2 separate regions of the Homo sapiens genome follow, and region 2 is linked to region 1. Evidence: fine-mapped expression QTL. A gene starts in region 1. The other region holds a variant in brackets. All regions are shown on one strand. Distances are from middle to middle. Region 1 holds the start of KCP (kielin cysteine rich BMP regulator). Region 2 overlaps SPMIP1 (sperm microtubule inner protein 1).

What was found. PIP is the estimated chance that this variant, and not a neighbour inherited with it, causes the effect.
Region 2: its variant is the best candidate, but not a certain one, in a credible set for the expression of KCP in whole blood (TOPMed, PIP 0.56).

What each region holds. Positions count from the first base shown.
Region 1 is chr7:128,908,895-128,913,267 of GRCh38, forward strand. It overlaps KCP (kielin cysteine rich BMP regulator), which reads right to left and starts at 1,815. Exons shown (of 40, transcript NM_001366122.1): 1 at 1,707-1,815. The coding sequence starts at 1,782. It also overlaps the pseudogene LOC392787.
Region 2 is chr7:128,866,691-128,871,063 of GRCh38, forward strand. It overlaps SPMIP1 (sperm microtubule inner protein 1), which reads left to right. Exons shown (of 2, transcript NM_001195150.3): 1 at 1-140; 2 at 1,976-4,373. The coding sequence ends at 2,085. Among named protein-coding and RNA genes, the nearest start is that of SPMIP1, 2.5 kb to the left of the region's middle. RefSeq lists silencers at 2,508-2,617, 2,748-3,267, 3,328-3,447. The variant G/A (reference allele first, on the strand shown) is at 2,575.

The sequences.
Region 1 (4,373 bases):
ACAACTGCTCCCGCCCCCAACCCTGAGCACGGTTTTCCAGGCTTGTGACAGGGGTTCCTGGGGGCTCCCACATTGGGTGGGGTGGGCTTCAAAAGTGGGACTTGGCTGCATTTTCTGAAGGGTGTGAGAAATGTGCTGGCAAGGCCCCTGCTAACTTTGAACACACCAGATCCAGTGAAGACAGCCTGTCCCTGCTTCTAGAAGACACTATGTCCAGGAAAGAGGGACGGGGCACCTCTGAGCTCTGGCCTGGGGTTAGGGGCGGCCACTTTCACCTTTTCACTTTGATCCTTCTCCTGCAGCCCAGAAAGTAAAGGCAGGAGGGGAAGAGGCAGACATAGGTCCCTCCTCCAGGCAGGGATGGGCAGGGAAGTTGAGGGTCTGGAGCGGAGGCAATAGGAACAGAGAGAGGAGGAGGGAGAGGGATGGGTCTTTCCCACCATGGCAGCTCATTAGTGAGGCCAGGCCTGGAGTGGCTTAAAAGGGTTTCTCACAGACACTAGGCCTGTGAGACAGGGGAACAATGTCACCCACTGTCACCATCAAAGGCAGAGGGGATTCTAGGCTAAAATTGAACTTGCTTTGTCCCAAGTTCCCTGGCTTGGTTAATGCCATCACACATACCCAGTTACTTAAGCCAGAAAGCTGGGGCTCAGCTCCCCTATTTTGTTGCCTGAGTTGTCCCCTAATACATCCCCCCCTTCTCCTCTCTCCACCATCTCCATTCAGAAGGCTGAAGACAAAGCGTCCCTGCCTCCATCTGTGCCCCTTCTCTCCACTCGACCTTTCTGAATCACACAGCCGAAGTCTCCCAGGAGCAAGTCCCGCTGGGATGGATCACAAGCACCGCCCACCTTTCCAGCCCCGCTACTTCTGGCTTATATCAGGGATTCTAACTCAGTTCCCGCACCCTGGGCGAATACTGGCCCTCAAACCCCAGGTGCCCTTTCCCATCTCCGTCCCTCTACTGGGGATCCTGTCACCCGGAATGGCACCCGGTCTCAGTCCTTCCCAAGCACACAGAGGGCGGCCACGATGGGCGTCTCAGCATCTGAAACCTTCTACCCAATCTAGACTCCCGTGGGGCCTCATCCTGCTGCCCAGGGCCCCTCCTCCCAGGCCACTCCTCCAGTTCTGCTTAAGTAGGCAGGCAGGATATGGGAGCCCGGGAGAAGCTGAATCCTCTGGGACCCCTAGGTGAAGCTAGGGCCAGCCTCGCCTGGAGAGACCTGCAGAAAGAGCTCCGAGTGGCACAAACTTGGCTGGTCCCCAAGGAATTGTCCCGGGTTCCCCTCTTAGCCTCCCCTGGCCCCGTGCCGGCACCGAGCCCTCCATTCCCGCCTGTCCTGCTCCGGGGAGGGCCAGACACAGATGCAAAGTCAGCTTCCACAGCGGGCCCCTTTTCTCCCCCTCCTTCGTCAAGACAAATAATTAACTTCAGACTCCCAGATGCCAGGGCAGCCGCACTCTCTCCCGCCGCCGGCTGCAGGAACCGCCCCCCTCTCCTGAACCCCCTGCTTTGGCCGTGGTCTTCCCCACCCTGCTCGCTCCCCCGACGGGGAGGACGGAGCTGGCCAGGGAGGCGCGCGAACCTCAGGCAGGGCTAAGAGCAGAGCCCCCAGCCCCTCTCGGCCCCCTCAGGCCGGGCTGATAGGAGGGAGGGGGCGCACCTGGCCGGACCCCAAGCCTCCCGCACCTGGACTCACCTTCCGCGCCCGCGGCCAGCGCCAGGGCCCCGAGGTGCAGGAGAAGGGACAGCGCAGCGGCCCCGACCCCGGCCATGCTAGCTCCGCCTCGCTCGGCTCGCCGTCTGTCGTCGCGGCTCAGCAGGCGCTGGGGAAGGCGGGGTGGGGACACACAGGCCGCTCCCACCCAGGCTTTGTTCAGGGAGGGCTCAAACCCCCCACCGCGCGCGCCTTTCCCATGCACACCTCCACCCGCCCCGGGCCCGGCCGGTCCTGACCCCAGAGAGCAGCTCCAGCTCGCAGGAAGCCCAACGGGGGTGTAGGCCTTGTCTCCGCTTAAGATCCAGGAGGAGACCCTGAAAAGAAAATAAACCCAAGTCCACCCCTCTCGGGATCCTAGAGAGTCTCCCTGCCCTTTTAGGTTACTCCATCGCCCTAGGGTTTCCAGATCGATTTTTCCTCTCTCTCACAAGTTTACAGAAGAAGCAGACTGAGCTGGGTTTAGATCCCTGCTCAGCCAATTCCATGTGGCCTTAGACCACTAACTTCTCTGTGCCTCAATTTCCCTATCTGTAAACTGGGGATCACCACATCTACTTTATAGACTTGCAGTGAGCATTAAGTGAGATTATATAAGTAAAGAATTTAGAGTCGGTAGAGAGATGGTAAATGCTCAGTAAATAACAAATAATAATAATAAGAACTCCTGATCTCTGAAATCATGGACACGACCAGTGTTTTCCTCTCTCCCCTATAAGTTTCTTTCCTGAACTCCACTCAACACCCCTACCCACCCCAGCAGTCCCAGGCTTGGCCCCAAATGCCAAGGCCGCCCTTCACTGGCTGGTCTCAGCCCCATTTCCCACTCCTGAGCTCAGGCCTGGCTGTGGGGTGAGCCTGGGTAGGGGGCAGGGCTGGGCCCTGGGCTCAGCAGGCAGAGGGGGCCAAAGGGAGGAAGTGAGGACAGCCGTCCCTGTGGGCCCACAGGCTGGGAAACTCCTCCTTGAAGCTGGGAAGCAGAGGGTTGGGTCTCACAGGCGAAGCTCACAGGCAAAAAGGAACATTGAGGGCGGAGCTGTGAACCCTTCCAAAGCTCTCCCTCCCTGTCATAAAGACCAGAAGTCGGAAGCCACCCCTCCCCCTAGACCAGGCAGGGACTGAGGTCTCCCCAGCCCACTCTCCACCAAGCTTAAAGCTTCAGTAAGGAGACGGCAGCTTCTCTGCCCCAGAGTCTGGGCCCATAGTGGACCTGAGCCTTTGCCACAGGGGGCAGGGAGGCTGCAATGCCACGCTAAGACCTGGCCTCAGTGCCTGGAGCTGAGGTCACAGAGGAAAGCCAGGGCCAGCCAGCCAGAAGAGGAACAAGGAAGCGGCAGCACTATTCCTGGCAGGTTTAAGGAAGGTGGCTTTCATTGACCGGGTGCCTCTGGAAAGCAAGTCCTCTGAGGGGCTGGGTAGTGGGACGGTTCAGAGCACAGATTCTGGCAGGGTTGCCAGGGCGCATCCTGGAGCTCTTGCTTTCTGCTCTGGGGCCTCTGGCTGGTCACTTCACTTTTGGTGGCTGATTTTTCTGAACTGTGACTGGAGCTCTAACAGCACCCACCTCATGGAGTGTTTGTAAGGATTAGTAATGCATGGTGCTTGGCACAGAGGTATGAGCAATTTTTACTTCCCTTATGAAGAATGGGGGCACCTCCATCCCCATTTTACAGAAAGAATCAGAGAGAATCAGGGTGAGCAGCTCTAAACCACACTGGGAGGATGCACAGGGCTTCCCTCGCCCCACAGTCCCCTTCCAGTCCCTTGTGTCTTAGCCTCTGCCACTGAGCCTGGCCCCAGTCGGCCCTCATATCACATTCCCAGGGAGGGACACTGTCCTGACACAGAAAAGGTCCTCCAACCCCTGGGGTGCGGTGGGGTGGGGAGGCTGGGCCTTCACTTCACCCCCAAGGCAGGTGTTTGTAGTGTCTGATTCTGTGTGTGTGTGTCTGGGTGTGGCACATTTGTGTGTGTGTGTGTGTGTATGTAATGTGTGTTTGGCTGGAGGTGGGGGCTGAGGCTGGGGAGGCACTTTTGGGACTCAAGGGACCTTGACTTTGAAGGGGCTTCCAGGGACACTTTCGTCACCCCACTTGACGATAAGGATGTAGTCCCTTTCTCCTTGACAGTGTAGGTGACATTGTACACCCGGTTCCCCATGTGCTTCACGTACACCTCCTCACAGGGGGTCTTGGGGCCGTGCACGCCCACCATCATCATGTTGGTGCCTGGAGAGGGAGGCAGAGGGACAGGCTCACACCAGGGAGTCCCCTACTGTGACCCACACCCTGCTCCCTGACGGCTTCTTGCTCACACCCCGGGAGACGCCCTCCCCCCGCCACCTGCCTGCTTTGCTGCAGTCCACGGTGAAGGAGTTCTTCTGGCCCACGAAGGCCTGGGACAGCCCAGGGCCCCGAGTCACCACCTTGCTGGCATCTGAGGAGAACTTGGGGATGGAGTTGTAGCTGGAGCCCCGGCTTGAGGAGGACTTGGTCACAGTCTCCACCAGAACCGTGGATGTTTCGTGAAGGCTGTGGCCTCCGGACAGCCTCGGACCTGAGGGGTGGGTGGAGGGGGCACAAACCTAGTCAGAAGGGCTTCCCGTTCTTCCCCAGGCAGGGGACCCTCGGCCAGCACTGCCACCCTGTG
Region 2 (4,373 bases), 42 kb before region 1:
CACCCGAGCCCTGCTGTATGAAGGCATCTCCCACGACTTCCAGGGGCGGTACCGCTACCTCAACACTCGAAAACTGGACATGCCAGAGACGCGATACCTCTTCCCCATCACCACCAGCTTCACGTATGGCTGGCAGCTGGGTGAGCCCAACCTCTTGGAAATCACCTCAAAAACAGAGCACTAGCCATGTGCTAGGGAGTGGGCATCCTGGTGAAGGGTCCAGACTATAAACAGAGCAAGGAGATGGCCAAGAAGTGTCGACACGTTCCACAGAACTAGGGAGTGGCGGTGGGCAGGGAGGCAGCGGCCACGTGCTGCTATTTATTGGATTGTCAGGAAAGGCCTTTCTGAGGACCCGAGGCTGAGAGCCAGATGATAAGGATGGGTTTGGATTTTATTTGTTGTGCAGGGAAGCTGATGGAGGGTTCTAAGCAGATTTCAAGAGTGACACTGGTGAACCTTTTAAAAAGTCACCCTGACCTGTATGTAGGCAGTGGCTTTTTCAGGGGAAATGGTAGAATCTGGCACATGAGTTGGGCATCTGTTTGGTTATCCTGTGGTAGTGGCCTGAGGGATCAGCAATAGAGCTGAAATCAATTCAGGATGTTTTGGGGGAAGACTCGGTGGAACTCACCCATGGATAGAATGTGAGAATAAGGGGAAGAGAGATCAATCACCCAGGTGTTTGTTTAGCTAAAGCTGCAGTGACAGGGAAGACTGGGAGAGGTCAGGGCTGGAGCGTGCATGAACAGGTCCTATTTAGCCATGTGTGTTTGGCTATGTTATGCTTGAAGTGTCTGTAGGGTGGCTGTGTCTATAAGTCTGGATTGAAGTCAGAGCTGAAGATGCAAATTCGGAGGTCATTGGAATATAGGTGCTTTTTTTTTTTCTTTTTCTTTTTGAAACAGTCTGACTCTGTCACCCAGGCTGGAATGCAGTGGCACGATCTTGGCTCACTGCAACCTCTGCCTCCCAGGTTCAAGAGATTCTTCTGCCTCAGCCTCCCGAGTAGCTGGGACTGCAGGCGTGTGTCACCACGCCCAGCTAATTTTTGTTTTTTTAGTAGAGACAGGGTTTCACCATATTGGCCAGGCTGGTCTCGAACTGCTGACCTCGTAATCTGCCTGTCTCGGCCTCCCAAAGTTCTGGGATTACAGGCATGAGCCACCGGCTGGCCTATAGGTGCTATTTAAATCCATGAGATCTCCTAGGGAGCTCAAGTTGCTGGAATCTGATGGGAGTGGGGGCAGGAGGGCTGAGCCAGAGCGGGTAGGGGATGTCATTGGCAGGAAGCCTGTCCATCTCGGCTGAGTCTTTTTTCTGTGAGGTTGAGTCAAGGCCATCAGCGGGGAGGGAGCTGAGCTGAGGCAGTGGAGTAACTAGAGATGAAGAGGAAAGGTGTGGAACAGGCATGTGCCAGGCAGGGCTGCTGGGCGATGTTGCTGCACGTCCCATTGCTGTCTGTGCTCATGAATGTCAAGTGAGACTCCTCAGCCCTGTACCCTTCTCCAGCTGCTTGAGTGTCTTGCAGAAAAGGTGGATGGTTGGGGATTGACTCAGTTGAGATTTTGCCCCCAAACATCCCTTTCCCCCAGGCCCCTAAAGGGGAAGTCAGGGAAATAACTTTCTAACAAAAGCAGGAGGCGAGCCCTAGAAGCGGGGAGCAGGAGGCCGAAGGAAATCTCATCTCTCCACAGTCTGTCCCTGTGACAAGCAGGCTAGGGTGGCCCCCCTCCCTGCAGGTAGAGGATCCTGAAGCTAGGGTAATGATGGCAGATGGCTGCTGTATCCTGGCATCCAGCCAGCTCCCAGTATTTGCCCATAGCTCCCATTCCTCCAAAGCACTTTCTATTTCTTCCCACAAAGTGGCTACTCCACTGACGGATTCCTAGGGCTGTGCAGACAGACAGGGCTCCCATGCTCTGCGTGTCCCTCCCTCAGGAACCCATGCTTGGCCTCTGACATCTTTTCCCAGGCCCCCCAGTGAAGCAAGAACTGGTCTCCTGCAAGATGTGCCGCATTGAGTCATTCTTCCGCAAGAACGGGGCCTTCGCACTGCTTGATCCCCGAGACCTGGCCCTCTGACCGTGGGCCAGGTGTGGGCTTAGGGGAGGGAAGAAGAAATAACAGGCCTCCTGGTGGGGCAAAGCTGCTGTGTGTGTCTGTGCCCCTCTGCTCTCCCTGTCCCTGAGGTTGCATTCAGGCCTTTCTGAAACTATCAGACCTGCAAGTTGCCCTCTTGCTTTTTCCGTAACCCTCATCACTTTAATCATCCCTTTGAGGACTCAGCAATGACCAGAGGGTGCTGGGAAGGGCGAGCACTACTTCGCAGGCACGGGATCCTCAGCACCAGGGGAACACAGTAGTTCCAGGAAGTTCTGGGTGTTCCTGGGGAGAGAGCGGCTTGTCATTTCGGAGGCCAGGGAAAGGGGCCTCCTGCCACCGCCACACCCCTCCTTGCCCGCCCCTCACCTGGCCCCGAGGGCCCGCAGCCGCTCCGTCCTCTCCCGATGCATTTGCTCCAGCTGCTCCCGCAGGGCGCGCCGCCGCCCAGCCGCGTCCTCCTGGCGGTGC[G/A]GAGCGCTGAGCGTCCGCGGCTCAGTGGGGCGGGCGGGGCAGCACCTGGCACACCTGCCCCTCGCGCCCCGCCGAGTCACTGCCAGAGTGCAGTGCGCTCACTTCAAAGGGACCCGGGCGCGCTAAGCTCGGCCCCTGCCCCGCGCAGGCTCCTTGTGGCCCCACCGCCTTCTAGGGGTCTTGCCTGTGGCGGGAGTTGAGCCGGACTGGGCGGGAGCCCCACGGGGTGAACCCGGCAGTGGCGGTTCCTGGCGATGTGGAGGCGTTCCAGGACCTGCAGAGGCGGCAGTCAGCGTCCGGCCGCCCCTCGGTGCCCCGCCCGCTCCAGGCAGGCCCCGATCCCGGCGTGGGGACACACCCGGAGCCGCTGCTGCTCACGGTCCCGCCGGCGGCGCTGCCGCCTGGCCGCGCTGTGCAGCTCCAGCAGCCGCTGCAGAGCCGTCACCTGCTGCGCCGCGCTTAAGCCCGCAGGCGCCTTGGCGGTGCTGAGGGGCGCCGGCCACGCGGCCTTCAAGGCCTTGGGACGCTCAGGGCCGCCCCACCCGACCCCGGAGGGCACCCGGAAGCCAAGCCTGGCCCACCTCCTGCTCCCCCGGTGCGGGGCCCACTCCAGGGCCCTGCAGCCCGTGCGGATCGCGCTCCAGGCCTGGGGGCCCCGGAGAGCCCCGAGGAGCCCCTGCTGCCCGGATACCTCGGCGCGCAGGGTCGCTGGCATCTCGGCTCCGGCTCCGCGACCTGGGAGCCGCCGCCGGGCCGGGGGCTTCGGGCGGGTAAGCGCAGCCCACGCCCCCTCCCGGGCGGCCCCCAGCTTTGCCACCGCCGGTGCCGACCTTTGTGGCTCGCCTTTGATCATGCTCTGCGTCAGCGTGGTAGTCCTTCTCCGGAGGTTTGGGCTCTCCCTGCCCACAGGCTTTGGAGTCTGTGCTTTCAGGGACCCGCAGGAGTCCCTCGGATGGCTATGGGGGTCGCCTTCCTCTGGGGGCTGCACAGTGGCCTCTCCGGGAGCCACCTCCCAGGCTTGTGAGATATTGCCTTCCCAAGACCGCAGCATCTTCTTCCCTGGACTCTGGGGACTCGCCTTTCCCTGGCACTTAGGACTAAATTCTCTTCGACTCCTCCCTCTGACCCTGAGGAGCCCTTGGGCTCTGGCCCCCGTGTGTCTTCACCTTCTGACTCTGAGGAGCATCTTTGATCTCGCCCCAGGAGGCCTCGGCTCTCTTACGCTGAGGGGTCTCCGCTTTCTGATCCTGAGGGTCCTCCTCTCAGACTCAGGGGTGTCCATCCTTGGTGGTCTTTGAAGTTCTGCTCTCTCCTGGCCCAGGTGCGGGTCCGAGCCCAGCCCTTCAAGGGCATCTTGGGAAGGCAGGTTTTGGGAGGGCAGGTCCCCCGGCCCAGGGGTCCCGGGAGTGAGCTTTCTTTTCTGGGTCTCAGGCTCTGCCTCACTCCTCTCTTCCCTCTGGGCCAGGTCCTGGAAAGGAAAAGCACTTTGGGCCCAGGTTTGAGAGGGAACCTGCAGACCCCAGGGGCCAGCCTTTGCCTGATTCCTGAATTTGTTAAAGCCATTTTATGTAGTGTGGAAGGTGCTTCACTGAAGAGCCTCCTCCTCACCCCAGCAGCCTCCTCCCAGGCAGACCCACCCCTGCCATCCCCAACCTGAGACCCTTGACCTTTTCACCTTGCACTCTGAGCTACCTGGCACCCCAAAACTCCTCCTGGTAGTGGGGTTGAGCTCTTGTAAGGAGCCTGAGGAAGAAAGACCAGTATTGGGAGCTCATGTCCCAGCCCCTCATGCACAGTTC